Linked DNA regions of Homo sapiens: region 1 is linked to region 2. Evidence: fine-mapped expression QTL. A gene starts in region 2. The other region holds a variant in brackets. All regions are shown on one strand. Distances are from middle to middle.

Region 1 (15,498 bases), 32 kb after region 2:
GGAAGGTGTGTGTCACCTGTCCATGCTGGTGAGCATGCAGGGAGCCCCAGCCTCCTTTCTGCCCCTCTGACTGGCACCCGCCATAGTCAAAACGCCTCAGCCTCCGCTGCGCCCCTCTGCCAGGAAACTTCCTCTGGGTGGGAGAGTGGAATCCTGGGGACTGGGAGCCTCCCCTGGGGATCGTGACGGGCCTTGCAGAGAGGGAGGAGGTGGGAGACAGGAAGTGGACAGAATTGTCCAGGTTTAGGGGAGGGCAGCTCTGCAGTGAGCTTGTAAGCACCTCCGTGTTCTGGTGGAGTGGGGCTCTGGCTCCGGGAGCAGGTGGGTGCCACAGGACCCAGGCAGGAGAAGCCATAGAAGTCACATTTTCCAGGCGCAGAATAAGCACTGTGACCTTGGAGAGTTCCTTAACCTCCGAGCCTGTTGTCTCTGCCATAAAGCAGGAGTAGGCGCCCTGTACAGGGAGGGCTGCCCTTGTGTTCTCAAGGCAGAACATGAAATGCATGCAGTTGGTGCCCAGCACAGTGCAGGGGGAGCTCAGGGCACAGCCCTCCCTCCTGTGACCGGGAGCAGTGAGAGGGCCTGAGCACCAGGGGCCCCGTGACAGGTGATACAGCACATGGTTCAGTGGGGCATGTCCAAGGCAGGCCAGGAACCCTGGGGCCTTGTACATTGCAGGCACGGATGCCAGCATCCCTGTGCATATCAACAACATCTGCCAGCGCAACTATGTCACGGTGGAGAGCGGGCGCCGGCTCAAGCCCACCAACCTCGGCATCGTCCTGGTGCACGGCTACTATAAGATTGGTGAGTTCCTCAGTCCTGCCCCCAGGGCCCACCGAGGCTCCCTGGCTTCTCCCTGGATGTTGGCTCTGCTGCCCGCTCCAGACAGGCCCCTGCCCTACAGTGATCCCCCAGCCCCACACACACTCCCTCAACACCCGCTGAAGGGGTGCTGCCCCAGGACCCCCAGGACCTGCCCAGAGCAGGAGCTCAGTGTGTTTGAAGGCTGAACAGATGTGTGAGGGAACCAAAAAGGGAGGCGAAGTTGCCTCAGCCCTGTTCCCTGGAGGTTCCCCAGGGGCCAAGGGGAGAGGGAGGAGCACAAAACTGGCCCAAGGGCGGCCTGGAGCTCATGTGTGATGTGGTTCTAGCCACAGGACATCCCTGGCCACTCTGCCTGACATTTCCAGGTGGGAAATCAGGAAAGGTCTGGGGTCATAAGAGCCAGCCTGGTACCATCTGAGGCTGTGGACTGGTGGGTAGGGCAGAGGCCAGGAGGACGGGCCAGAGCGGGAGGGGTGAACAGGGCAGTATCCCTGCCTGGGAAGGGGTGGCATGGCCCTGGGTGCGAGTGCTCAGGGCAATATCTGCCCCCTGCCCACTTGCAGATGCAGAGCTGGTGCTCCCCACCATCCGCAGTGCAGTGGAGAAGCAGCTGAACCTGATCGCCCAGGGCAAGGCCGACTACCGCCAGGTCCTGGGCCACACCCTGGACGTGTTCAAGAGGAAGTTCCACTACTTTGTCGACTCCATTGCTGGTAGAGTCTGCCTCTGGCCTGCCCCTCACCAGAGGGGTGTCTCTCTGTCAGCAAGGCCAGTACCTGGGGACCCAGGTCCCCACGTGGGACCAGCTCCCAGATCTGGGCTTCAGGCCTCCGTAGGCCAGGTCAGTGACACCTCCTGGCTGGGTTGAAAGAGCAGGTGCATTAACACCACACATGGCCAGGAACACGTGCCTCTGACGCACAGGGCTGCTGCCCTGCCGTGCTGCCAGGACAGTAGAAACCACCGCCTATAGGGACCCTTTCACACTCAGACCCTTGACCACGTGTTGCGGAGCCTTTTGCTGGGGACTGGGAGGGAGATGACTCCTGCACTCTGCTTGCCCGCAGGCATGGATGAGTTGATGGAGGTGTCTTTCTCGCCCCTGGCGGCCACAGGCAAGCCCCTCTCACGCTGTGGGAAGTGCCACCGCTTCATGAAGTACATCCAGGTAGGTGCAGGGAACACTAGCTCAGGCAAGCTGCCTCACCCCTGTAGGCCTCAGCTTTATCGTTGATCAGCAGGAATCATGTTCTTTGTCCTGGTTGTCACAAAAGAATGATGGAACATAAAGAGGCCTTGCCAAAAAATACCCAGTGTCCCCACGTCCCCTAGAATACACAGCCATTAGGCCACGCAAACACACATGGTGCATTTTTCCCTAACACCATGCCACTTGCCATCATGGGCATTAATGTACACACAGAGATTTTAGAACTGCCTTTTCTGCACGCGTGGAGCAAGAGCCAGAGACTCATGCTCCTTGCCTGGCAGTGTGTCACAGGTTCTGCATGACAGATTACATACTTTGTATTATGAGAGGAGTGGGGGTGGGTGCCAAGTCGGTGGCCCCAGTGACCCTCACGCCACCTGCCTGGCATTGCCGCAGGCCAAGCCAAGCCGCCTGCACTGCTCCCACTGCGATGAGACCTACACGCTCCCCCAGAACGGCACCATCAAGCTCTACAAGGAGCTCCGCTGCCCTCTGGATGACTTCGAGCTGGTCCTGTGGTCATCAGGCTCTCGGGGCAAGAGCTACCCGCTGTGCCCCTACTGCTACAACCACCCACCCTTCCGAGACATGAAGAAAGGTGAGTGCAGCCACTCCCTCCTGTCCACAGGTAGCTGCAGTCTCTTTTCAGTGCCAACCCCTGCCTTGCACCAGGCTGGACTCTGAGGGGACCCCTCACCCTGGCCTTTCCTGCACTCATTGGCACTGAGACGAGAGACCCTGGATGTAGCTGGGGCACTGCTTAGGCCTCAGCCAGTGGTGCCACCCTCTCTCTGTGTCAGAATCGAGCAGGCAACCCTAGTCCACCCTCAGGACCTGGGCACAGGTGTGCAGTGCTCCCTCTGGAGCTGAGTGAGCAAGAGGATGCAGCAGTCGGGGGACCCACCCGGTGAGCGGGCACCCCCAGTCAGCGTCCACCACCGTCCTCCATCCTCATCCTCGTCCTCATTACTGGAGGAGGGAGCGCATGTCCAGGCAGGCAGGACAGAGCACCGAGCCAGACCAGGAATCAGCGGGAGTGAGGCATCTGCCCACATTCACCGTGTGCTCTGCAGAAAGCTCCCTCAGGCCTCAGTCTGCACCCAGGCTGCCCCGGGAGTGAGACCCCATCCCTGCCCTCCTGCTGCCGCCAGAGTAGCTGACAGGGTGGTTCCATGTGGCCCAGTGACATGAGGGTCATGTGGCATTACCAGTAACAAGCTGGCAGCAAAGCAAAGGGGGGATGGAGTCAGCTGAAACCCACTGGGATGGTGCCAGCGAGGGGCCTTGAAAGTTGAGGAGGTTTCAGGTAAGCAGAAAACAGGGGTAATGGCAGCCAGGAGCCGAAACATGAGCAAGGCTGTCCCCAAGAGCAAGGCCAAGAAGAGTTCCTTCTGCTGGGACGAGGGATCCAGGAGCTTGAGGCATTGGGAGCAGGCAGCAGAGGGCAGGTGGGCACAGTGGGCGTGCCTTTACAGGGCTCCCTTCTCCCGCCAGGCATGGGCTGCAACGAGTGTACGCACCCCTCCTGCCAGCACTCGCTGAGCATGCTGGGCATCGGCCAGTGCGTGGAATGTGAGAGCGGGGTGCTGGTGCTGGACCCCACCTCGGGCCCCAAGTGGAAGGTGGCCTGCAACAAGTGCAACGTGGTAGCGCACTGCTTCGAGAACGCCCACCGCGTGCGGGTGTCCGCCGACACCTGCAGTGTCTGTGAGGCCGCCTTGCTTGATGTGGACTTCAACAAGGCCAAGTCCCCACTCCCGGGCGATGAGACGCAGCACATGGGCTGCGTCTTTTGTGACCCCGTCTTCCAGGAGCTGGTGGAGCTGAAGCATGCGGCCTCCTGCCACCCCATGCACCGCGGTGGACCAGGGAGAAGGCAGGGTCGAGGGCGGGGCCGGGCCAGGAGGCCCCCTGGGAAGCCCAACCCCAGACGGCCCAAGGACAAGATGTCAGCCCTGGCCGCCTACTTTGTATGATGACCCTGTCCTCCCTCACCCAGGCTGCAGTGCCATGCAGACACCTCATGGCACTTCAAACTATTAAAATGCATTTTATCTTATCCAGAGCTGGGGCCCCTTTGCTGGTGCAGCGATGTCAGAGCGTTACCGTGTCCCTGGGCACCTGTGGGGCCCTCTCTCCCTCTCCGAAACCCAATACGTCTCCCTTCAGCCTGCATACACGTGCCCAGAGTGCTCCCTGCTATCCCTACACCCTGGCAGTACGGGCAGGGATGCCCCAACCCTGAAGCCCTGGGGAATAGACCCAGTTTGCACTCACACCCCATCTCAATCCGTGCTGCTGATGGTAGCTGTGTGCACAAGCAGTGGCCCTGATGCCTTAAGGAAGGCGGCCTTGACAGCTGTGGCTCCGGCAGGAGAGGAGTCTAGTGGAGCAGGTGGGGCTGGGAGACCCCCTCCCCGGATCTGGCTTATGAATCCCCTTGGTCTTCGCTGCAGCCCCCTGCTCAGGGCCACGCTCTTGACCCCACACTTCTCCGTCCCCTGCTCCCTGCTCCCATCTCTGAGAAGCCCTGTACATGGTGCCCGTGTGCGTCTGGCAGCTTCCCAGGACCTGCTGCAATTCCCATTCTCACAACAAGCCCTTATGGTCTTAGAGGCAGCTGGGTGCCCCATGGAACCCATTCACATGCCAGGTTTAGAAAATACCCTGTAGGCCAGACTGCCGTGTGGTGCCAGGTGCTGGTGGCAGCTGCCCTCTGACCTCAGTGCCTTCTTGTGCTCCCCTCCCCAGCCACCCGAGGAGAGACACCTGTGCGGGATCCACTGTGTGTTGGAAACTCCCTCCACACTCCGCCCGTGCCTCATTGAGTGATGACGGGAGCTCAGCAAAACAGCTTTCCAGACTGTTCAGTGGGACCTTTCTTTGAGGGGCAGGTCAGGAATGTTTCGGACTCAGACCCGCCCCCGCCCCAACTCAGTAGTAGATTCCCAGGCTGCACCAGGACTTATATGAGAGCTCCTGTAAGGAAACCCAGAGCCCACCAAGCATACCCCCCCTGGACCCCCTTCCTGGAGGCCCTCACAGGTTAACACGGGGGTTCCCTGGAACACAGTTTGGAGAGCTACTCGAAGCTGAATGAAAATACAGAGACATGGGGAACCACATAGAGGGTCCTGGGATGTGTCTCAGAAGCACAGGCTTCAGGAAGGAGGGGGTGCTCTCAGAGCTTCTGCCCCCTCCCACCCACTCTGGTCCCATTCTGGGGCCCTAGCAAGGCCACACCTGTTAGGTCCCCAGTGCGGGGCTGTGACTCTGCTCTTCCACCCACAGGGCCCAGTGGACCTGGAGCCTTCTCCGCAGAAGGTTTCAAGACCTCCAGGACCCTTAGGTTATAGGGCTCATTCAGGCTTGGAGGAGCAGAGACGGTTCCTAGGTCTTAAACCCAGACCACCCAGTCCTTCCTTACTATGCTTCTGCACTGCGCTTTCAGCCACAGGCAGGGCTAATCACAAAGTGTTCCTTTATTTTCCTCTGCAGTTGTCCCTTGTGTGTGACCCTCCTTCAAGGCCCTTGGCTTCCGCAGCTTGATTCTGCACTCCGAGTCCATTCACCTTCTCCCATCCAATAGCATCCAACCCCGCTGCTACTGCTGCCAACCTGGCCTTGGGAGCAATGAGGACAAGGAAGGGACAAGACCCCTTTTAGGCCAGAACTGCCTTCAGATCAGCCACGCTCCATGGGACTGTACCTCTGCCCTGGAGGCTGGAGAGGTCAGTGGCTGCAGACTGTCTCAAGGAGCCCCTGGCCCTGCCCACCTAGCCAGGGGTGCAGCCTTGCCAGAGAAGCAGAGAAGCGTCTGTGGCTGGGTGGGTGATATTGAAAGATTCCTTTCACCAGGGTGGAAGCCAGGATCTGAGGCGTGATGGAATGTGGACAGTGAGGCAGTGACAGCGCCACAAGGCAGGAGTCATCTCCAGGCACGTCCTTGGCCTGGAGCCCATAGGGACAAGCTCCTGGTGGTGCCTCACTTTGCCATCCTCTCTAAGCCGCAGACCTTGAATGGAATCAGTGCTCAAGAGTCTAATTGGGCCCACTCTGAGGATGCCTGCGGGAATATCAGCTTTTACCGCACCACACTGCACTTTACAGTGTGGGAGGGCCTGCCCCACGCACCACCTCACCTGTACTGCGGTTCTCAAACTTCACCCTACAGCCATTCTGTTGTAGGTGATCTCAGGGGCAGTTTGAGAAACAGTGGCTCAGGGTCTCACAGCAGCCCTCTGAGATAGGTTGGTTGCTATTGTCCCGATTTTTTCTCATCAAGAAACTGAGGCTCAGGTGAGCTAAGGAATGTGCCCAGGGCCACTGTTTATAAGAAGTAGCCTCAAGCCTTGCTCATGGTTACTGCCCTGACAGGGATCTAGGAAAGAGTGAGCAGGAGAATGGGATGAGGCAGGACCCTCCGCCCCAGCCCTGCTTTCTCTGCCCAGACACCTCCTGCCTTGCAGACCCAACCCCACCCCAGATGGTTTCCTTTCCAGTCACCCAGCTGCTAGTTCTCCAGGTTCCTGGTCTCACTCCAGGTTCCTCCTGTTAGAGAAGCATCCCAGAGACATTCATTCCTGGCAAGGACACAGGCCTGCGGACCTGAAGGTCAGGTGGGCAGAGCCACATAAGATCTGGTGCCCCATCCTCCATTTAAAAAATTATACTTTCCAACGGCATTGGTATAAAGGTGAATATATTAATATCATATATTAAAACATTTTCTTTGACATAAAGGTTTCTTTCTTCTGCCTTTAAAATAAAATATTTTGGCCAGGTGTAATGGTTCACACCTATAATCCCAGCACTTGGGAAGGCTGAGGCAGGAGGATCACTTGAGCCCAAGAGTTCAAGACCAGCCTGGGCAACATAGAGACCCTGTCTCTACAAATTTTTTTTAATCAGCTGGGCGTGGTGGTGCTTGCCTGTGTTCCCAGACACTAGGAAGGCTGAGGCAGGAGGGGAGGGTCACTTGAGCCCAGGAGTTTGAGGCTGCAGTGAGCTGTGATCATGCCACTGCACTCCAGTGTGGGCACCAGAGAAGGAGCTTGTCTCTAAAAAGAGAGAAAAAGAATATTTTCAAGAGCCTCTGTGTTGGCAGAAAAATGGCCCTTCAGAGATGTTCATGTCCTATACCTGTGCCTGTGTTAGATTACATGGCAGACCCGGCATAGTGGCTCACGCCTGTACTGTAATCCCAGCACTTTGGGAGGCCGAGGCAGGCAGATCATTTGAGGTCAGGAGTTTGAGACCAGCCTGACCAACATGGTGAAACCCCATCTCTACTAAAAATACAAAAAAAATTAGCCGGGCATGGTGGTGCGTGCCTGCAGTCCCAGCTACTCGGGAGGCTGAGGCAGGAAAATCGCTTGAACCAGGGAGGCAGAGGTTGCAGTGAGTCGAGGTCATGCCACTGCAGTACAGCCTGGGTGACAGGGTGAGACTCCGTGTCAAAAAAAAATAATAATAATAATAAGGGGCAAAGGGGAATTAAGGTTGCTAATCAACTGATTTAGAGAGATGATGCTGGACTATCTGGGTGGGCCCAATGGCATCAGGAGGGTCTTTAGAAGTAGCAGAAGGAAGCAGAGGAGGGAACCAGAGGTGGCAGTGTGAGAAAGGCTCAACTGGCCATTGCTGGCTTCGAGGCTGTAGGAAGGGGCCACGAGCCAAGGTATGCAGGGAGCCCTTAGGAGCTGGAAAAGGCAGGGGAACAGTTTCTCCCCTAGAATCCTCAGAAAGGAACGCATTCTGGCGATCCCTGGATCTTCGCCCACTGAGGCTAAGTGGACTTCTGACCTCCAGAACGGAAAGATAACAAAAGCCTCAACGTTTGTGGAAACAAACAACTCATAATGAGCCTGGGACTGTGCCTCCTTCCCGGACGGATGAGCCTGCCTGGGCAGTCTGGGTTTGCATCCCTGCTCTGTCACTTA[C/G]CAGCTATTGACGGCAGAAGTTGCTTAATTTCTGGGCGCTGTGACCTAGGGATTGCTTTCCCCATCCAGCCGCCCACCCAAAGCTGCAGAAGAGAAGCAAGAGGCTGGTGACTGGGGCGGCTCCGGAGCCCAGGTGGAGCCGCAGTTCGCCTACCACTAAAGGGCCGCAGTCACCGTCCACGTAGCCGCCAGGGGGCAGCAGAGGTCCGGCCCCGCCAGCCTGGAGGCCCGACTGCGCCTGCGCGGCGCCCGCGGCGCCCGCGGCGGCCAGGGACGGGAAGTGGGCGGGGCCGGCCGGCAGCAGCTTGCGGGACACGGAGCCGCGAGGAGACAGCTGAGGCCCGCGGAGACCAGGGGTGAGGAGGCCGGGGGGGACGGGATTAGAGGGCTGACGGGGCTGGGACGAGGGTCAGGCGAGCGCCCAAGGCGCACAGGGGTGAAATGGGACCGAGGAACCGGAGGGGTGGAATCAGAGGGCTGGGGAGGCAAGGAGGCCGAGACGAGGCTCACATGGGTGCACCGAAAGGGTGCGGGGGTGCAGTGCGGGGGGCCGAGGAGCAAGAGGGGCCGCTGCGGACATGAGGAACCCGAGGCTGGGAGTTGGGGGGCTGGGGAGCCAAGGGGGCAGAACTGGGGGGCAGGCGGGGGTGTGGCCGAGCCGAGGGCCTGGTAGGGACCGAGGGCTATGAGGCAGAATCGGGTGCTGAGGGGGACGCGCCCCATTTTCCGAGATTTGGCCTCTCCCCACCCCCCAGGAGCCTCTGGGCCGGCACGTTGCCCCATATCCCCCCAGTCCCTGCACCTTCAGGGGCCCAGTCTGCCTGATGGCCCCCGGCTCCGCGGCCTCCCAAGCGTCCGTGAAGCGAGCGTCAGCTGCACAAGTGCTCGGGCTGCAGCTGCTTCAGCCACAGGTCTGTGAGCCAGAGCCTCAGGCGCGGAGGCCGGGCACATTGCCGCTGGGTTCGGTCAGGCAAGCCCCTGAACCTGTCTGTACAACAGGAAGAACTGGCTCCGGCTGCAGGGATTTCGGCACAGCGCTTGACACACAGTGAGGCCCACTGCATGGTGGCGGGCTCCTTCGAAGCCTTCCACCCTGCGGGACAGAGTCACACATGTCGTGGTGGCATTCCCCGGGACAAGTTCTCTGGGCCCAGCTGAGCTCTCACCACGGGGGATAGAAAGTGGGGCCGGCCAGCACTCTGAGGCCATCTCCAGTCTCTTCTGTTGTCAAATTTCGCTCTTTTCCTCCTGCACGCGAGGTGGAAATACCAAAGGCATTGGGCATCCAGAGACCTTGATTGAGTTCGCTTTGCCCTTTCACCTGTGTGAGACCTTAAATGGGTGCTTGCCCTCCTATAACCTATTTCTTCATCTGCAGTGTAGCCTGACAGTATGTACTTCTCAGCGTAGTTGTGAGAGGTAAACAAAACGAATGCATTTCTGAAAGCCATGAACCTCTACACAAGTTCATTTGTGGAATTCCTTTAAGATACCCCCTGAAGGCCGGGCGCGGTGGCTCATACCTGTAATCCCAGCACTTTGGGAGGCCGAGGCAGGCATATCACCTGAGGTCAAGAGTTCCAGACCAGCATGGCAAAATCCCATCTCTACTAAAAATACAAAAATTAGCCGCGCGTGGTGGCAGGTGCCTGTAATCCTAGCTACTCAGGAGGCTGAGGCAGGAGAATTGCTTGAACCTGGGAGGCGAAGGTTGCAGTGAGCTGAGATCCCACCATTGCACTCCAGCCTGGGCAACAAGAGCGAAACTCCCTCTCAAAAAAAAAAAAAAAAAAAAAAAGGATACCATCTGACCTGAAGCCAACCGAGTCTTTTAAGACCTGGCGCTGCTGCCCACTGCACCCTTCAGAGTGGTGTAGCTTCCTCAGCCCATGCCACCCGCCAGTCACTCTTCCCTCTGCCATCACACTTACCACCTGCTGTACACAAAGGGCCATCGTGGGCTCCCTGACTACAGGGAGCTTACAGTCTATCAAGAAAGTCAGGCCTGTAGAAAGAAATGGTCATTGCACAGCAATGTGACTATGCTTAATGCCATGGAACTGTACGCTTAGAAATGGTTAAAAGGATACATAGTGTGTATATTTTACAACAATAAAAAAAATTTATATATGTAGAAAAAAAATCTAGGATTTACATCTAACTATTATTAGTATTAGTAGTTATGAATAAAGAAATAAGAATCTCTTTTGGTAGAAAAAGGTTGGCCAGGCGTGGTGTCTCATACCTGTAATCACAGCACTTTGGGAGGCTGAGGCGGGCAGATCACCTGAGGTCAGGAGTTCGAGACCAGCCTGGCCAACATGGTGAAACCCCATCTCTACTAAAAATACAAAAAAATTAGCCAGGCGTGGTTGTGGGTGCCTGTAATCCCAGCTACTAGGGAGGCTTAGGCAGGAGAATCACTTGAACCTGAGAGGCGGAGGTTGCCGTGAGCCAAGATTGCGCCACTGCACTCCGGCCTGGGTGACAGAGCAAGACTCTGTCTCAAAAAAAACAAAAACAAAAAAAAACAGTTAACATGAATGATGCTTTTGTTACACTATAGTGGTGCAGTTCCCTTTTCTAAGGATTGCTGGGTTTTTTTCATTACCTTGGTTCTGCAGTTAAGCAAGACTCAACAAGTATTTTTTCTATGTCCCCTAAAAAACTGCAGTTGTTAAACCCTGCATTCGTTAAGCTTAGGAGTCAAAACTAATGCACTAGAGGAAAATAAATATTTTAAATTAAAAAAAAAAAAACTTTTTACAAGTCAGATGTGAGCAAAAGTGCCATAGAGACATGAAAGAGAGCATGCTGGATCCAAAGATGGGGAGATTTCAGCAAAGCCTCAAAGGATCTGAGAGATCTCGGGAGGCAAAATGGAAGGAGGGCACCACAAAACAAGGAGGGGAGGGGCTGCCCTAGGGTGGGGGGTACACAGAAATGGAAGGAGGAGCCATGAGAGAGCCAAAGCCCAGAGCTGGTGGCCAATGAGGGACAGGTCAGGGATAGAAGGAGTCAGAATGACTTCCCAGGTGTCATCACAGTTAAGGCCCAGGTTCCCCAGCATGAACCCCACCCTGGGACTTTGGGCAAGTTCCTTAGCTCTTCTGCTACAGCCTGCCCTGTGAAGTGGGGATAACCACAAGAGGTTGTTGGGAGGCTAAAAGCCATCCCAGGAAGAGTGCTCAGAGCAGGGGCGGATGGCAGCTGGCAGCACCGTCAGCCACACCCCTGCAGCTGCCCCCCGATGAGTTTGCTTTGCCATTTCTCACCTATGTGGGACCTTAAATAGGTTCTAGGAGGGTGAGCACCCATTTGGTGTGCAGTGGGGCCCTGATCCAGGAGGAACCAGCTGCCAGTCGCATTTGGTCAGACTGGTCCAGGCAGGCGGTGCTGGGATGCAGGAGTCCAATGTCCCTCCCATGCCCACCCCGGGCTCTTGGTGATTTGCACAGGCTCATGCACACGTCCCTCTTATTCGGAGTTTTTCACTGGTGTGCCCTGCTCAGGAAAGCCCAGCACCAGGCTCCGCTGCCTCTGGTGCTCTCCCAGCTCTCCCTACTCCCTGCGGCTTGCCGCTGGCCTCCATGCCATTCCTGATGCTGTCTCTTCCAGTTGATCCCTCAAAGAACCACAGCACTGTCCCCTGCCCCTCCAGGCACTCCCAGGGCTGCCTCTGGTTTCCCTTGGTGAGGAATTTCTCCTTCCTGCCGGGTGTGCCATGGTGTACGTCAGATTCAGGAGCTTATTGGGAAAAGGAAGGAAATGATTCCTGTCCCTTTCGACATCTGGGCTCCAGGGAGAGAAAGCTGTGTCCTGGTTTCTCTCCTCACCCCTTGCCTTAGGTTGGTGATGCAGAAACAAGGGTGCTTGGTCCCCAGCAAGTAAGATGGCCCTGGGCACCCTGCCTTTGTAACAAGAGCAGGCAGTTGGCACAGGCCCTGAGAGTAAGCCAGCCTGTCCCCTCTACAGATGCAGACAGAGCTTCACACACACACATCATCACACCCCCCAGACCTTACTTAGTACACATGGCACAGACACCATTGAGGCATGTGCAGATAGTGGGCACAAGGCACAGAGAGAGCAGGCAGGTGGCCACAGTGAATCAGGGTCTGTAGTGCAGACAGGAGGAGCCACCCTCCCTGAGGGAACAGGCCGATTGTGGGGAGGGGCTCACGGCACAGGAAAGAGTACCCCAAGGTCAGGAGGCAAGAAGGAGGCACCTGCATCCCAAAAGGTCCAGCAGACGTCACCAGCAAATGGGGTGGAAGTGAAGGGTCTTGAATTCTGCCCTTGACAGTGGGGCTTTACACTGTGGGCAGGGGTTTCTCCAGGGGGGCCCTCTGTGTGCTCTAGCGGGGAGCATGCTGTCCTCTCACTTGGATCCTAATCATAAATTCACATGAGCACATTTTGTGGTGAGACAGTAGAGCCTCCAGATCACTTGGAATTGCAAGGGAGTGGGAGGAGGCCCCAGGCACTGGCAGTTGCTGGGGGCAGCTCTGCATCGTTCACATTCTCCCAGAAGCTCCAGGGGCCAGGGCAGTCCCAGGCAGAAGAGGGGCCCTTGGCCGCTTGCACTGCTTGAGGGCAGCCAAGCTTGCTGGGAAATTCACGCCATCTTCGAATGCCTTACAGCTCTGCTGGGGCATGGCTGGCAGGACGTGCCGCCTCCTCATTGACCTACTAGGGCTCCCAGCCTCTGCTCATTTCTCCAGCTCACAGTCTTCCCTTTGTCGTTTGAATGTCAGTGTCCCTCCTGCTCTCAAAGTGATTTTTCCTTTTTTGCTTTATGTTCTTTTTTTTTCTTTTTTGGTAGAGATGGGGGGTGGGGGGGGGGTGGCGATCTCACTGCCCAGGCTGGTCTTGAACTCCTGGCCTCAAGCACTCCTCCTGCCTCACCCTCCCCAAGCGCTGAGATATAGACCTGAGCCACAGCGCCTTGCCAGTTGTTTTATGTTCTTTATCCTTTTACCTGCTTGCCTTCTGTAACCTGGGTTGCATTAAATTTACTCCTACTTGTGAGTAAATGTGAACCATAGCAATAAATTTAGTCTATCCCCAGAACCTTCAGTAGCAAGCACCCCTATTCCTACGTTATTTGTATGTGTCCACTTTAAATAAATTACCTTTCAATTCTGCCTCTAAAAGAAGAGAAGGGTTTTGTGTTTTGTTAATTTACCACCCTTCACCCCTTGCATTCCAAATCCCTCACTGATCAGACATTTAACTTGGTGCTGGGACCTTTCCCTCTGCCCACCCCATTCTCTTTTGTGTTTTTTATCTTTAGGCTTCCAGAAGGCTTGTTCCAAGTTAGCAATTCCTGATAAGGACAGCCCTCTTGTGGGCTGTGAGCTCCCTGCATCTCTTACTTCCCACTCTCTTCATCCTGCACCTCAGGCCCCTGCCACAGCCGCCCTTTTAGCAAAGTTTGTAGGCAGAGTCTGTGGCTATTCTAAGACTGATGATTCTAGAAGATTCTCCTTGCCTTCTTCGTTCAGTTTTCAGAACCTGGAAGTCCTCATGAAGGTGATGGGCTGTGAAACTGTTCCCCAAATTCTCCACCCTAGAACTCGGGGTGTTCCTCAGAGTCTCATGTCCGTTTGTCACCATAAAAGAATGCAGTTTTTCTCCCTGGCTTAGTAACTGTGTAGGATTTCTTTTTTATTTTTTTCTGGATCCAATCTCATCCACTACTGCGTAGGACTCGCTGAATAAAGTTTCCCAGCCTGAGTGTTAGACAAAGCCCAAGGTGGAGTCCCCGCTGTGGGGAGGGTTTGGAGGGGTCAGGCACCCGAGAGGAAGGGGGCAGGAGAGAGAAGGGTCCATGCTGAGTGGGTGCTGGCAGGGAGGCCCAGGTGTGGGGCCTGGAGGTGAATCCCCGGGGCGACGCAAAGAACATGGAAGGGGGGGCGCTGGAGAGCTGTTTGGGTATAGGCAAGGCAGGCAGGCTGGGGAGGCGACTATGGAGATTCGGAGTTAGGAGAGAAGAGGAGCCAGAGCCACCCTGGGAGGAGGCTGTGAGGCACCATGTGCCTCTTTCCAGTGAGAGAGAAGCCGGTGAGGGAGTGAAGGCACAGGCTTTGCGATCCCTCTTTGGCCCTGTCTTCCTTCTGACACCTCAGGCGAGGGACTAACCCTCTCCAAACCTTGGGATTCTCATCTGTGAAATGGGGGCTTGTCCTGGCTCCTGGGGTGTTAGGGGCAACTCCCAGGGCTGGTCAGCTCTGGTCATCCCTAAGGACTTAGGGAGGAAGAGCCCACATGCCGCACAGTGGGGTCAGCGCCTGGAACTGTCCACAGTGCCCCTCTTCCAGCCAGGGCTTAGCAGGCCTGAGCCATTCTAGGCTCACAATTCCCTCCTCCTATTAGAGAGCATTGAATAGGCTCGATGGTGTCCCACAGCACCTCCTGTCTGTCCCAGATTAAACCTCTGCTTCTCTCCTGGCCACCCCTTGGGTGGCCCCAGCAGCCTCTGGGGATCCCTTCCTGCTCCCACTCTGGCCTATCTCCAAAACAGCCCTGGGCCGGCCTCCCGCATCTTGGCCCTTCTCTTTCCTCCCCTGAACACCACTAGAGCCCCAACAGGTGTCCCTCCTGCCATCTGGTCACCACGTCCAGGCTCACAGACCTGGTGGCTTCACTCCCTCACCTCAGAGCCCTCCTGGCTGCTCGGGACCCGTGATCAGGTTGAACCCCCTCACCTACCTCAGTGCCTGGCCTCGGCATCCCTGTCCTGCTCGTCTCTGGCCACGCTGGCCACCCTCTGCCAGGAACAGTCTTCCTCCTCTGTCACTTCTTGACAATGTCCACCCAGCTGCTGCTCCTGGCACCATCTCCTGAGACCGGATCTCTGGATGCCCACAAGTCCCCACCTGGACTCATGTCAAAACAGTGGCCAGGGTTGTCCCTCCACCCTCTAGTGGCCCTGAACCATGAGGCCATGCACCTGCCACATGGTGCTTGCAGGTGGGCACCTGCATTGCTGGTGCCATGGCCCCCTGATTCTGCTGACTCTGACATTTCTCCCCAGGGTGAAGCCTGGAGACCCTCTTGCCCTGGCCTAGCTGCAGGCCCCCGGGATGCTTTGGGCATGTCCTCTGGAGCCCCACAGAAGAGCAGCCCAATGGCCAGTGGAGCTGAGGAGACCCCAGGCTTCCTGGACACGCTCCTGCAAGACTTCCCAGCCCTGCTGAACCCAGAGGACCCTCTGCCATGGAAGGCCCCAGGGACGGTGCTCAGCCAGGAGGAGGTGGAGGGCGAGCTGGCTGAGCTGGCCATGGGCTTTCTGGGCAGCAGGTAGGCCTGTGCACCCCCAAAGGGGACGGGGAGTAAGGGCACGGCACCAGGGCCGACAAGGGATGTGGCTGCTGCTCCCCTACACGTCCAGCCCCACACGGGGATCTGCAGCCCCGGATCCCTATGCAGCACCATGTGGAACTCCCGTGGCTGCTATGGCAAAGCACCACACACTGGGCACTCAACACAGCCAAAGCTCATTCTTTCACAGGG
Region 2 (15,498 bases):
GAGTGACTGCATTCTGGTTTGCTCTGGTCTTTTGAGGTCTAGTGCAGGAGCTTAGTCCAAAACAGTGGTCTTCCATGAATTTCATTTAATTTTTTAATTTTTTGTTTTTGAGACAGAGTATCTGTCACCCAGGCTGGAGTGCAGTGGCATGATCTCGGCTTACTGGAATCTCTGCCTCCCAGGTTCAAGTGATTCTCCTGCCTCAGCCTCCCAAGTAGCTAGGATTACAGGCATGGGCCACCATGCCTGGCTAATTTTTCCATTTTTAGTAGAGATGGGGTTTCACCACGTTGGCCAGACTGGTCTTGAACTCCAGACCTCAGGTGATCCACCCACTGCGGCTTCCCAAAGTGCTGGGATTACAGGTGTGAGCCATTGCGCCTTTCCTAATAATATGTTTATTTACTCAACAAACATTTTCAGGCACTGCTGAATGTTATGCTGGTCCCCAAGAAAAGATCCTGACACAGCACAGGTTATGCCTCTTCTTCTGAGCTCATACTGCCCCAGACAGGTGGGTACAGAGCCCTGAAGGACAATCAGTATCCACTCTGTGCACGTCTCCTAGAAATTTCAAGATAGGGCATTCAGGACCCCCAGCCCTGGCTTAAATGGAAGCCTGAGCAGCAGCTTCCCCAAACCCAAACCTGAGGAATAATGGCCTCAGCCTATGGTTACTTCTCATCAGATAAGCGCTTTCAAATGGCTCCTCTCAGCAGTCTTATTAGGTATGGATAATGTGCATCTCCCTTTCACCGAAGAGAAACTTAGAGTTAGAAGGGTTCGTGGAGGACCTGGTAGGTCTGTTGAGAGAGAGCCAGGCCTTGGGACACCAAAGGACATGCTCCTGACCCTGCTGGTAAATGGCTTCCCTGATGAGGGGGTGGCCATAGGACTAGCCTCCTCCATGGACAAATAGGTGTTCCGGGTGGGGTGCCTGGGCCCTCCCCTCACAGAGCCACCCTTCTCTCCTCAGCTGTCTGTGGGTCCCACTACATTCCCTGGAGATCTGCAACTGCAAGCTTCTGGACACTGACATCACCTACTTGTCCCGGAGCCATCATACCACCTGCCTGAAGAAGCTGGATCTGAGCGTCAACGACTTGTCCTACATGATCCCTGGGCCCTTGGGTACCCTGCTGAGGGCAGTCTCAGGGACACTGCAGCACCTAGACCTGAAACACTGCTGGCTGAAGGATGCCCACCTCAGTGCCCTCCTGCCCGCCCTGTGCCGCTGCTCCCACCTCAGTTCCCTGAGCCTCTCCGACAACCCCATCTCCAGTGCCTGCCTCCTGAGCCTGCTGGAGCACACCATGGGGCTGATGGAGCTGAAGCAGGTACTCTATCCCATCCCAGTTGACTGCTGCATCTACCTGCATGGCGTCTGCCGGGGTCCTGTGAACGAGGACAAGCTGTGCCAGTTGCAGGCCGAGATACAGAAGCAGCTGCAAGCCATGCAGCAGGCTGACATGCAGTGGAGCCCCTCCACTGTCTTTGCTTATGCAGCTGGTGCAGTTTGAATGAAGAACAGGAGCCAGGCTCAGGGAACAGAAGTCAGAGAGGGCAGCTGGAATCACAGCTGAGGCCACATGTTGTTTGCAAGGAACATAAAATAAACTTCCATGGGAACTATCTGGCGCTTTCTTCATTCCTCTCGCTCCCCTTCCCCAGTCGAAAGCCTGGCCTGTTTCACCTGTTCATTCAATCGGCACACGTTATCCAGGTGGCTCTACCGCCAGATCACCAGAGACCCCAGAGGTCCAGCCCTCCCTGGCGAACACTCCCTCTTCTGGCCACTCACTCAGTTTCTCTTTGTCTTATGCTTCTGGGTAGAATGAAGTGGGTCCTTAGCTGACTTCCCCACCTTTGGACATGAGCTGTGCACTGGAGGTCTGAACAGCTCTGGGGGCTGTTGGGAGACTGGAAGGAGGCACATGCCTGGCACCAAACCCAGAGCACGCGGCCATCAGTCAGCTGATCACCATCGAGCGTGTGCTTGGGCCAGGCGCTGCTGTCCTCAGACCGGGCATACATGGAGAGCATGGGTCACAACCGTTTAGGAAGTCCCTACAACAGGGCAAAGTCAGAAGAATCAGGAGTGGCTGCCAAAGCAGGTCAGGGAAGGCACCTCAGAGAGGAGACCTTTGAGTCCAGTCCTGAATCTGTGGCAGAGATCTGGAGTCAGGCACCCTGGGAGGGGCCCGGCAACAGCAGCAGCTGAGAGCTGGGCCTGAGTCTGGCAGGAGAGGACAGGTCAGAGGTTCACAGGCCCAGGCCCCCAGCACCATGTGGGTGGAATATAGTCAAGGCTGATGTAGATGGAGACAGAAGGCAGACGCAGGGGAACTTATGAGTGACCAAGATATGTACAGGGGCTTCATAGAAAGGCCTGGACCAAACTGACACACAGGGCCATAGAAAGCCAGAGTATTACTGCTGGGTGGGAGAAGTTTACAGAGCAGCCTTCAGTCCATTCTGCTAGTCCACTTGTCAGTTTCTGTTTGTTTGCCTGTCCTTGCTGAAGCTCTGTTGTAGGCATCCTGGTTCCACCCATGTAAACCCTGGAACCAGAGATAGGTAAGAAAGCCTCACTTAGCGGAAGGGTCCTCAGTGCCTTGCTTGCTGAGTGCTGCTTCCATCCAGGCGAGGGAGCTTGCCTGCTCTCATGAGCCATCTTGCAGCAGCCTCAGCGCCTCCTGAACTACCCTGACTCCAGGTTGTGATAGTGCCCAGCAGATTCCTCATAGGATTCCTACAGAATAGCACAGTCCTTGTGCACCCACCTTCCTCTGTGTATCGGTCACGCTCAGAGGGCCAGTCCAGAGGCCATACAGTCATCTCCAGCAGCCTGGCCTGCGAGTGGAGCATGGTGATTTTTCACATTGTCCATTTAGGTAACAAGTACTTGCTAAGTGCCTCCCAGGTGACAGGTACTTTTGCAAGGGCAGAGGATGCAGCAGAAATAACTCCAAGTTCGTGCCCTAGTGGAGCATGGGCTCCATGCAGATAAGCAAGCTGGCAGGTAAATGACACGTCTTCAGATTGAGAAAGGGCAAAACAAAGGGAGTGGGGCCCGCTGCTGAGGGGTGGAAAGGGAACTGTTTGCGATAAAGTACACACAAGGTCTGTGTTAGAGCAGAGACTAGAATGGAGGCAAAACCTCCAGGCAGAGGAACAGAAAAGCGCAAGTAGAGGAAGATCGAGATACCGAGAAATGCACTGGGGGCTCGATGTACTGTGCCGTTCCTTGCTGTGCTGAAAAAATCAGATGCCTCCCCAAACCCTGACTGGCTAATTGCCTCTGATCCACACAATGCGCCTCTCTCCGATGCAGCCACGCAGGCATGTAACTGCAGCTGCTCCACATGACACTATCAGAGCGTAAGATCAGATTGCATGAATGAAATCCCATTGCTTCCTGTAGGTACCTTCTGGTGACATGTCTTTCCAGCAGTGTCAGGGCACAGGTGCTGCCATGACCTCAGCCTCGCTTTCCTCCTTACCCTGACCACTCACTTTCTTCTTGCCTGAGTCAGTATTGCTCTTTAGTCAGATATGGGAGGATGCTTGCTCCTGGAAGTATCTGGACCAAATTTCCCCAAGATCATAAGACCTTCCTCCTGCTGCACCCACTTGAGAGCTTGCTTGAAGGTTTCCTGCAGTCCAGGCCGAGGGTCAAAACTCAACCTCTGGGTTGGGGTTAGGAGAGCTGACTGTGATTTGCATCCACTATTTTGTGCCTCAGTTTCTTCATCTATGAATTTAAGAATTTTGAATCACAAAGTTAATCATAGTCCTTACCTCACACCATTACGTGTGTGTTGAATAAGTTACTTATTTAGAAGGGTTACATGCTGAGAACAGTGCCTGGCATCTAGTAAACCCTCTTGGAAAAGAAGGGACACTTCTGAGTTCCCATAGCAAAGTAGAGTGGTCAGAGGAACCTGGCTGGGAGGCTTGGTGGGAGCATTCAGGGAAATGATCCATGGAAAATCTTCGGGAGAGTGGTGGTCATGTGGGTCTTTTTCAATAAGTCCTTCCCCATCTTGGTGGTGAGTGGACAGTCATCTCCAGGGGATCCCTAGGAAGAAGCAGTAGGTGCACGATGCACCAGCAAGCCCCACGCAGGCCTCAGTCAAGAGAGGAAATGCAGGAAAGAGGAGAGGGAGAGTGGAAAAAGAAGGGAGGGAGGGAGAAAGCCAAACATTTCAGTAGGATTAGAGGAAAAGAATGGGTTGCCTGCTGTTGCCCTGTAGAAGCAGGACTGTGGTGGGTAGGGATCTCTGGGCCAGGGCCAGATCAACTGCTTTCCCAGATATTCCCTGCTTCCAAAGCATCCTCCTGCCTCGGCCTGCACCACACCCACTTCCACACACAAAGGCAGCATGTGCCAGCTCCCCAGAAACAACCGAGGAAGCAGGTGGCGCCTGCACCCCCAGAAACCACTCACGCCATCACTACAGAGACACTGTGCACCCTGCAGCATTAGGGGTGTTGCTTGTACTATTTGGCAAAGTCAGCTTGGAGCACAGAGAAAGTTATCTGAGTAATGGATACGTGTTTGGGTCTTTCAGTTAACCCCTGACTCTTGGTCACTGCAAACATGAAACCAACATGATTATCAAAGTAGTGGTGGCCAGCCCTTGACTGTTGACTGTCATACACTGTGCTGTGTGTTTGATATACATTTTCTGAGATAATTATCACAGATCACTAGAAAGTAAGGCCCAAGAGAGCAGACTTTTTTTCCGTTTCATTCACCATCGTATCCACAATGCCTGGAAATTAGTAGGTACCCAAAAAATACTGGATGAGTGTGAGAATAAAGGAAGATATGAGTGGACAGATGTTTTCCAACATGGCTATTGCGGCGAGCTCTCAGAGATGTTCCTTCTCTCATTTCCATCTATCTCATGGGCCTGTCTTGGGCTCCTGTGGCTTTGTACTAGCTGGTAACATTTTTATCTCCCCATTCTCTCCTCATCCTCCTTGACTTTTTTTTTAAGGCAAGGTCTCACTCTGTCATCCAGGCTGGAGTGCAGTGGTGCAATCATAGCTCACTGTAGCCTCAACCTCCTGGGAACAGGCCACCCTCTCGCTTCAGCCTCCTGAGTAGCATATGCCACCATGCCCAGCTAATCTTTTTTTTTTTTTTTTTTTTTTAGACAGGGTCTCACTATGTTAGGCTGGTCTCAAACTCCTGACCTCAAGTGATCCCCTCACCTTGGCCTCTGAAAGTGCTGGGATTCCAGGCATGAGCCATTATGCCTGGCCCAATATTCTTGTTTGTTTATTCTTCCACATGAAAGGCACATTCATTTAGTCATATCCCAAAATTACCACTACAAGAATTTCTTCTTAAAATAAGAAAATATTATAAAGAATTGAAATCAACACAATTCATCATTCCAACAGTAATCTGACTTGCCTTTTATGTCACTGGGCAAAATAAAATTTATTATGGATATCGGCTTCATGTTTGTCACTATGATATCCTTTGACATTTTAGGCGAGGCAGGGAGGTAGCTTCTCCTGTGTAAAGAGTTCACTTTTGCCACCATTTATTTACGTGGGTTTTTTGCTGGTGTTCACAGAATATGCTGGCACCTTCTGGTTGTTCTTCAGTTGTTTCTTTTGTGAAGAAAGGAGTATAAAGATATGGTGATGTCTGGCATGGTGGCTCACGCCTGTAATCCCAGCACTTTGGGAAGCCAAGGTGGGCGGATCACGAGGTCAGGAGTTTAAGACCAACCTGGCCAACATGGTGAAACCCCATGTCTACTAAAAATTTAAAAAATTAACTGGGCGTGGTGGCGCACACCTGTAGTCCCAGCTACTCAGGAGGCTGAGGTAGGAGAATTGCTTGAACCCGGGAGGGGAGGTTGCAGTGAGCCGAGGTCGCGCCATTGCATTCCAGCCTGGGTGACAGAGCGAGACTCCGTCTCAAAGAAAAAAAAAAGACATGTTGAGTTCAGGTCATAGGACAGGCTGCCAAGAGCTGTTTCTCCATGTACCCTGCAAATGACTTGGGCTTCTGTGACGTTTTAAGCTCCACCCACTTCTGGGGACAGCAGAGTGACAGAAGTCCCCCTCCCAGACAGGGGAGAAGGATGGCCTCAGCACACAGCCAGTCAATTTCCTGTTCTTCAGCGCAGGTTTCATTGCCCTTTTATTCAAACTTCAAAAAGTAATCTTGGCCAGGCGCGGTGGCTCACGCCTGTAATCCCAGCACTTTGGGAGGCCAAGGCAGGTGGATCACAAGGTCAAGAAATCAAGACCATCCTGGCCAACATGGTGAAACCCATCTCTACTAAAAATAAAAAAATATTTAAAAATTTAAAAAATTAGCTGGGCTTGGTGGTGTGTGCCTGTAGTCCCAGCTACTCGGGAGGCTGAGGCAGGAGGATCGCTTGAACCCAGGGGGTGGAGGTTGCAGTGAGCCAAGATCGTGTCACTGCACTCCAGCCTGGCGACAGAGCAAGACTCCTCTCAAAAAAAAAAAAGTAATCTTTAAGGCTGTGCACGGTAGCTCATGCCCATAAATCCCAGAACTTTGGGCAACAGAGTGAGACCCCGTCAAAAAAAAAAAAAGTGGCTTCTGGAACTAGGTTGCTCTGCCACTTCCATCATTGTGTCCTGCTGGTTCTTTTTTTTTTTTTTTTTTTTTTTTGAGATGGAGTTTTGCTTTTGTTGCCCAGGCTGGAATGCAATGGCATGATCTTGGCTCACTGCAACCTCCGCCTCCTGGGTTCAAGCGATTCTCCTGCCTCAGCCTCCCGAGTAGCTGGAACTACAGATGTGCGCCACCATGCCCACCTAATTTTTTGTAGTTTTAGTAGAGACGGGGTTTCTCCATGTTGGTCAGGCTGGTCTCTAACTCCCGACCTCAGGTGATCCGCCCGCCTCAGCCTCCCAAAGTGCTGGGATCACAGGCGTGAGCCACCGCGCCTGGCCTATGTGTCCTGCTTCTTTATGTGTAAAATAAGGATAATAATAATATCTAATTCCTAGTGTTGTAATGAGGATTGTGTCAGTAACAGAACAGTGCCTAGAACAGAGTAAGTAAGCACTGCATGATGTTAACTATTAATAGTATTATCAAAATCATGGACCAGCCTATGCCGAACCAGAGAGAAGAGAGGTCCAGGAGCCCTCAGTTATCCCATCCACCATAACCAGGCACCTGCCCAGTAAGTGAGGAGGGTAAGGAAGAGGAGAAAAGTCAAGACCATGGTGGAAACACCCCAGGGCTCTGCTTCCTGAAGTCCCATGGCGGTGTCTGGGCACCTGAGTTTCTCTCATGGCCTCTGCACACTCCTTAGAGGAGGCCTCTGCAGGCAAGTCTGCTGCTACTCTTTAGGGGAGTCAGTTTCTCCCCAGCCATGGGGAAAGAAGAACGGCCCCTCTCGCTGAGTCGATCCTAGGCCACCATCTCCCTGGTCAGAGTGGAGCTGGGGTTGGGGGGAGTCCCAATAGGGAGACACCTCCAAGTTGAAGGGTTCCTCTGAATCTGGGTCATTTGTCAACCTAAGGGTCAGTCAGAAAGCCTGACCCAAAGCTCTGGCAGAGGGTCAGCTGCAGGGCTCTCCGGGAAGAAAGCACAAGGCAACTGCAGTTTCTCTGCTCTGACCAAGAACACTTCCCGACGCCCTGGCCTTCAGAGCTGACCACTCAGCGCCTCCTGCTGGCCCAGGCCTCAGGTCCTTCCTAGGGCTCCATACAATGAACTCTGGAACTGGATTGATGGAATGAGCTGAGGGCCTCTGGGTTTCTCTTTCAGCCAACTGGTAGCACCCAACAGAGCCAATCTTAGCCCTGGCTGGTATGTGGAGAACACACTGCAGGGCGGCAAGGTGGAGACCTGGAGGGAGAGGAGGAGCTCGGATCAGGGTGGTGGCAGGGAGGCAGGGAGACTTGAGGGGATCTCCGATATACAGTCTTCGATTTAGGACAATTTCCACCTACAGGATTTTTCAACTACAAAACCAGTATGCATTCTGCACGCTTCTTGACTCATGATGGGGCTACATCTGGGTAAGCCCATAGTAAGTTGAAAATACCATAAGTCAAAAACGTACTTTCGAGTCACAATATTTTCAACTTAAGATGGGTTTATGTGGATGTAGTTCCATCTGAAGTTGAGGAGCATCTGTATTGTAAAGACAGTAATGGCAGGATTTGTGGGTGGTCCAGGATGCTCCCAGGCTCTGTCCCTGAGCAACCAGGAAGATGGAGTTGCCATTTTGGAGACGAAGAACCTACCAAGGTGTGGGTTTGGAATCAGGAGTTCTGCTTTGAAAGTGAAGTCTCACCGTGACTCATAATTTGTGACATTTCCAAACCTTAATTTGCCTATAGAACTTTTCTTTTTCCAGAGCCTCTATCCAGACTACTTATTATTTATCAAAATAAATTAGATAAATAAATAACTTAATTTTAGAATTCATCTTCCAGATATACTTTACACAGATCATTCCAATAAAGGCAGGTTGGGGCCCGGGACAGTGGCTCACCCCTGTAATCCCAGCACTTTGGGAGGCCGAGGCAGGAGGATCACTTGAGGCCAGGAGTTTGAGACCAATCTGGGCAACATAGTGAGACCCTCCCCCTAGACCCCATCTCTACCAAAAAAAAAAAAATTAATTGGCTGGGCTTGGTGGCTGGCACCTGTGGTCCCAGCTACTGGGGAGGCTGAGGTGAGAGCATCGCCTGACGCCAGGAGATCGAGGCTGCAGTGAGCTGTGATCTCGCTACTGCGCTCCAGCCTGGGTGACAGAGTGAAACCCTGTCTTTAAAAAAAAAAAAAAAAAAACAGCAGGTTGGGAAAATCTACAAGGAACAAGGGCAATGTGTGTATGTTATTTAAAATAAGATCATAAAACGTATTTTAAACCTTCCATAATCCTAATGCTCTAACAAATAAATTAGTTGGCCGAGCGTGAAGAGTCACACCTGTAATCCCAGCATTTTGGGAGGCCGAGGGAGGCGGACCACCTAAGGTCAGGAGTTCAAGACTAGCCTGGTTAACACGGTGAAACCCCCGTCTCTACTAAAAATATAGAAATCTTTGGGAGGCCAAGGCGGGCGGATCACGAGGTCAGGAGATCGAGACCATCCTGGCTAACACGGTGAAGCCCCGTCTCTACTAAAAAAATACAAAAAATTAGCCCGCGTGGTGGCAAGCGCCTATAGTCCCAGCTACTTGGGAGGCTGAGGCGAGATCATCGCTTGAACCCGGGAGGCGGAGGTTGCAGTGAGCCGAGATTGCGCCACTGCACTTCAGCCTGGGCAACAGAGTGAGACTCCGCCTCAAAAAAAAAAAAAAAAATATATATATATATGTATACACACACATATATATACATACACATATAAATTAGCTGGGCGTGGTGGCGCACGCCTGTAATCCCAGCTATTTAGGAGGCTGAGGCAGGCGAATTGCTTGAACCTGGGAGGCGGAGGTTTCAGTGAGCCGAGATCACACCACTGCACTCCAGCCTGGGCGACAAGAGTAAAACTCTGTCTCAAAATAAATAAATAAATAAATAAATAAATAACTTAATTTTAGAATTCATCTTCCAAATATATTTTACACAGATCATTCATTCATTCCACAGATTTTTTTACAGCATCGAAAAGAAGCCTGCTATACACACATCGGTACATTTTTATTATTTTAATTATTAACAGCATAAATGTTTTCATGCCAGTTTTCATAATCATTGTAATGATAATTGTCATGATTGTCTCTCCGTGGCGGGGAAGAATCTGGGTGCAGGGCTTGGGGATCCCTGCGGTCCGCGGCGTGCAAGTGCCACTCCCTGGGGTGCTCCCGGAATCCGCGAGCCACGGAACCTAAGAACGCCGACCCGCCGGAGCCGGAGGGCAGACGCTGGCACACCGGACGCGGGGACGCCAGAAGCGGCTGGACCCGGAAATAGGGGTTGTCGGTAGCCGCCCCGGGAACAAGGACCGGAGCTGGATCCGCGGTGCGGCTGTGGGTGAGCGGCGGGCTGCGGGACCCTCGCCCGGCGGCTCAGAAAGGCGGGAAGCGCACGCATTTTTCTGGCTTGTTTCCTGAACGTTGGCCGGCGGAGGACCCGCGAGCTCGGGAGAGCGCCCGGGCCGGGCTCTGCATTCTTGTTGCCTCTTCCCTGGCGGGGGTGATACTCTCCCGCGGGGCTTGCTGTGGGGGTTCAGGGAGGTGGAGATGGGCCCGCCATGTGCCTGCAGGGAGCAGGCGCTGTGGTTAATACTTTTCTTCTTCGAACCCTCCCACAGCTCTTTAGGGTGAGATCTGCTGTACCAGTCTCACAGGTAGGGAAACTGAGGCTCAGGGAAGCTGTGCAGCCACCGGGGCCCAGATCGGTGCGGTACACACCCAGGCAGCTTCCACTCGCCGCCCCCTAGGCCCTGGCTGGGTTTTGAGGGCACCCAGGTTCTCTGACCTGTTATCTGTAAATGAAGTAGGGTACTTTTGTGAACAAATTAGCTGGAATCCAGGGGCAATAATTTCTCGCAGAAGTGAAAGGTAAGATGTTCCTAGTCTTGCCTTTTTATCTTCTCACCTTTTGAAACAGGACCTGAGAGGCCAGCCTAACTTGGGCTTGATGGCCAGCCAGTCCTGGGATTCTTTTGCCAAGGTCACCTGACACTAGTGTGACTTGTTCTGAACCTCCATTTACTCACAGTTTTAAAAAATTACAACACCTGCCTTATGGGGTTGCTGGCGAGATTGAATAGTGTTGATAGCTATGGTGTGCCTACTACAAAGGAGGAGCTTAAGAAATGGTTGTTTCCCTCTTTTCCTGATTCTAGAAGCATTTGGTAAAGTTACTGAGGTGGTAAATCCTAGGAATTTTAATGCTATTCAGACCACTGCTAGGCCTACTCCCAGGCCACATCTGCTTGTTTCTTTTTTTGTTTGTTTTGTTGCAGGCAGAGTCTCACTCTGTCACCCAGGCTGGAGTGCAGTGGCGCGATCTCAGCTCACTGCAACCTCCGCCCCCGGGTTCAAGTGATTCTCCTGCCTCAGCCTCCTGAGTAGCTGGGATTACAGGCATGCGCCACCACGCCCAGCTAATTTTTGTATTTTTAGTAGAGACCAGGCTTCACCATGTTGGCCAGGCTGGTCTTGAACTGCTGACCTCGGGTGATCCACCTGCCTCAGCCTCGCAAAGTATTTGCTCACTGTCTATTTACCGTGAGAATGCACAAAGCAAAACCCGTGTTCTCCTGCTGCTTACTTACTTTCTAGGAGCTGTAAGACAAGAGCTGAATAAGTAGATGGAAGCTGTACCAAGTGTAGTGATGAGTGCTACAAGGAAGCAAAGCTGGGCTGCTGTTCCATCAGAGTGCTCACAGAGGCAGGACAGGATCAGGCTTGGGGCACGGGTTCTAGAACAACCAAGTCCAGCCACTGGAGCTCTGGTCTCTCTGACCCCACAGTCCCAGTCTAGGCCAATAAAATGGCAGCACCTATTAGCATCCCTGCCTAGGATGCTGGCAGGACTGCCTGGTCCCTGGTGTGTCCTCATTATGTCATACATAATTGCTGACTACTCTGTGGCATAGACATGAGAAAATCTGAGGAAACATTTTAGGACAAAATTTCCTACTTTGGAAGAGATGGGAAACTCAGACCCTCACAGAACAATGCCCCTCTGCTGCGAGTTTTCCCTTTTGGCCTCTGGCTTCCCAGGGTGAGAGAAGGGGAGTCCCTAAATCTCTTTTAAACCTCACTTCTGGGCCTCTGATTTTGGTAGAATCAAAACTTCCCCAGAACGGAGAGCAGAGGCCAGTCATAATCACCTTGGTTGTTCATTCATTCCCTCAGCAGGCATTTAGTGCATGCTGGGTGCCAGAAATATGGCAATGAACCTGACAATTGTGGGAGAGACAGACTGCTGACGCCAGATGCAGTCTTCAGGAGGGGAGGGGCAGGGGTCAGAGCAAGTAGACTAAGGGGGAAAAGTGGCCTAGGCCGAAGCCTGCTGGCGCACAGGGAGGAAAGGTGGGTGCGCAGCAGAGCCTTGGGAGATGCAGCTGGAGCTGTCATGGGCCAGAGAGCTCATCTGCAGACAGTGTCGTCATTCCACAAGGCCTCGGCTCTTTCACTGTGGGATGGTTGTACATTTAAGGGGAACATCCACTTACTTATTTTGAGGAAAAAAGCAAATTGTCATTTTATTTGGGACAGCTTTCTGGTCAAGATTACTGATTTCACTGTAGTCCTGTGATCTCTTAAGTGGGGAACAAGGTTGACAGCCCAAGGCCGACCTTGGACCTCTTCCCCTGCACAGCATGATGAGCAGCAGAAGCCCCTTTAGTGAGGGAGTTCCTTTGGCATCCTTTCTGAACAATGCCCTTTACAACCCTCCTTTATTTTTCTGGTTTTATTGTAAAGTCCCTTGTCTTAGTTCTTGTCCCTCAGTCACCTGTGTCCAGGCGCTAAATGTAAAAGGTGCAAAAGGGAATGTGGTGAGGAGGCACCCCCAGCCCTGACCTCCAGGCCCTAACACCCACTCCAGGTGATTGCTTGGACTGTTTGTTTTGCGTTCCATCCAGACATATCGCCTCTTCATAATCAAGTGCACACGTGTGCACACATATGTGTGATCACAGATGGCAGTGCTCTCTACACACCGTTACATGCCCAGCTTTCTTAGCATGATTTATTTCAGTGATCTGATCCACGTTAGTATGTACCAAGCAGATGCTTTCCTTTGTAATGCTGCCAGGTGCTCTACTGTAGAGAATGCCATGCTTTTTTTTTTTTTTTTTTTTTTTGGAGATGGAGTCTCACTCTGTCGCCCAGGCTGGAGTGCAGTGGCGCAATCTCGGCTCACTGCAAGCTCCGCTTCCCGGGTTCACACCATTCTCCTGCCTCAGCCTCCCGAGTAGCTGGGACTACAGGCGCCTGCCACCATGCCCAGCTAATTTTTAGTATTTTTAGTAGAGACGGGGTTTCACCACGTTAGTCAGGATGGTCTTGATCTCCTGACCTCGTGATCTGCCCACCTTGGCCTCCCAAAGTGCTGGGATTACAGGCGTGAGCCACCGCGCCCGGCCAGAGAATGCCATGCTTTTATTTAACCACCTCCCTGTTGACAGACACCAGCTTGTTTCTAACCTTTTATCATGATTGATAATGCTGCAGAGAACTCCCCAGTGATGTGGTTCATCACAGGCACCACCGTGCCCAGCCTGAGGCCACTCCAGCGCTGCCCTGTCCTACCTCCTGGGGACTCAGAGTCCACATGGACAGTCTTGTCAGGGCCCACCACTGACTCCTGTGAGTCTCCCCAGGTGACTTCACTCTCTACCTGTCTCACAGCCCTTGCCCTCCCTGGGTCAGCATGCCACCACCCAGGCCCCTCTGTAATTCCTGTTTGAGCCTCCCACCCTCTGGGAGTTGCTTCTTTGACTCCCACTTCCTGCTCTTGTGCCTCACTTCCTGGACCCCACAGAGCACACCCTCTGTGGACCCTCCCCAACCCTCACCTCCCTCTTCACCCAACTCAGAGTCAGGTTCTGTCCTTGTAATCTCTCCCCTCGAACCCTGACCCACTCCCTCTCCCTCCTACTCACCTGGACTCTCCCATCTAACTAAATCCAGTGCTTCCTCTGCTGTGGGCCTGCCCGCAGCATCACCACCTGTCCTCCCTCAGTGGACAGCCGTACCATGCCTCCTCCTCCACCAAGAGAAGTGCAGCCTTGTGGCAGCTCTGCATCGCCTGGATGCTGACCGGCTGCCTCTCTTGCCCCTCACCCTCCCAAGGCCATCACTGCAGCAGTTCCTTCCCCTCCGGCACGCAGCTTCTCTTTTCCTTCTCGCCAGAGCAGTCCCATCAGCGGAGAACATGCTGGCACAGCCACCATCCTGAAACAAGAGGGGACAGTGCACCAGCCTTCTCCCATCTCCCAGGTTTTGTTGAGCTCACCCCATGCAGCTTTCATCTGTCACTCACCACATGGCCCCATCAGGATTACCCAGGGCTCTGTTTGCCAGACCCTACAGTCAGGTCTCAGCTGCCATCTCGCCTGGCCTGTCAGTGTCCCCCACATGGTGATAACTGCCCTGAAGTGCTCTTTCCTGTGGCTTTCAGGACCTTACCCCTCCTGACTCACCCTGCTAGCTCCTCATCTCCCGACCCCCAGCCTGGGCTCCTTCCACATTGCTGCCACCTCCTCCAGGCCACCCAGGCTGTCCAATGGGCAGGTCCCGTTTAACACACCTGAAGTCCCACATCAGACTGCCAGTCCCTTCCTGTCATGCCTAAGCCAAAGCCATGGGTTGTTCCTTTTGCTTTTTTGTAAAGATGAGGTCTCATTGTGTTAATCAGGCTCTTCTCAAACTCCTGGCCTCAAGTGGTCCTCTTGCCTTCGCCTCCCAAAGCACTAGGATTATAGGTGTGAGCCCATGGCAGGTGTGAGCCCATGCCCAGCTCTGCCTCAGGTCATTCTTGACTCACCTTCCCCTCCCCCTCCCATGTCCCGCCATCCCAGGTCTGCCTGGATTCTGACTTCCCTCGCATCCTCCACCACTGCTACCCAGGGCCCATTCATCCTCTTCTATGTGGCAGCCAGAGAGGTCCCTTTAACACTTGAAGTCAGATTATCCCACACCTATGCAAACCCTCTGCTGCCTCCCAGCACCCCTAGAGCAGACCCACATTCTACACCCCTGCTCCCTCCCTCAGCCCCATGAGCCCCCCTGCCCAGCCATATCCTCCCCAAGGACCTCACCTTCCCTGCTCCTTCTGCCTGGACTCTTCTCCCAGGTGTCACCCAGCCCTGCCCTGTCCCTCCCCTGCTCCCATACTACAGCATGAGTTCTGGGAGGGCAGGACCTGGTGTTGCTTTGTGCTGTATTCCCTGCATCCTGGACTAGGCCAAGCATGCAGTAGGTACTCAATAAATAACTGGACTATTAAGTTCATTCCAAGGAGTGGAATTGCTGGGATGTGCACTCGGACTTTGAGAGGGATCCCTGAATTGCTGCACATAGAGGTTGTTCCCATTTAACTTCCCCATGCCCTCATCTGCTGTGTGTGCAACGACTTTGAGTCTCTCCCTATGTGATAAGCACAAGCTCATTGTAGTTCTGAGTTTCTTCTGCGAGTGTTGTTGGACATGATGTGATACCACAAAGGTACTTACGTGGTGGTTTTCCCTTTTTTTTTTTTTTTTTTTTTTGTTTGAGATGGAGTCTCACTCTGTTGTACAAGCTGGAGTGCAATAGCATGATCTCGGCTCACTGCAACCTCCACTTCCTGAGTTCGAGCGATTCTCATGCCTCAGCCTCCCAAGCAGCTGGGATTATAGGCACCCACCACCACACCCAGCTAATTTTTGTATTTTTATTAGAGATGGGGTTTTGCCATGTTGGCCAGGCTGGTCTTGAACTCCTGACCTCAAGTGGTCCACCCACCTCAGCCTCCCAAAGTGCTGGGATACAGGCGTGAGCCACTGTGCCCATCTAGGTGGTAGTTTTTC

The links.
Region 1: its variant is fine-mapped to the expression of TOP3B in blood mononuclear cells (TOPMed, PIP 0.90).

What each region holds. Positions count from the first base shown.
Region 1 is chr22:21,945,630-21,961,127 of GRCh38, reverse strand. It overlaps PPM1F (protein phosphatase, Mg2+/Mn2+ dependent 1F), which reads left to right and starts at 8,280. Exons shown (of 8, transcript NM_014634.4): 1 at 8,280-8,336; 2 at 15,020-15,285. The coding sequence starts at 15,080. TOP3B (DNA topoisomerase III beta) reads left to right here. Exons shown (of 18, transcript NM_001282112.2): 14 at 679-807; 15 at 1,392-1,541; 16 at 1,896-1,996; 17 at 2,435-2,636; 18 at 3,533-4,103. The coding sequence ends at 4,014. RefSeq lists a silencer at 8,088-8,497 and enhancers at 8,491-9,011, 9,058-9,127. The variant C/G (reference allele first, on the strand shown) is at 7,981.
Region 2 is chr22:21,977,233-21,992,730 of GRCh38, reverse strand. It overlaps TOP3B (DNA topoisomerase III beta), which reads left to right and starts at 9,944. Exons shown (of 18, transcript NM_001282112.2): 1 at 9,944-10,001. It also overlaps the pseudogene PRAMENP. RefSeq lists enhancers at 9,765-10,059, 9,557-10,543, 13,994-14,163.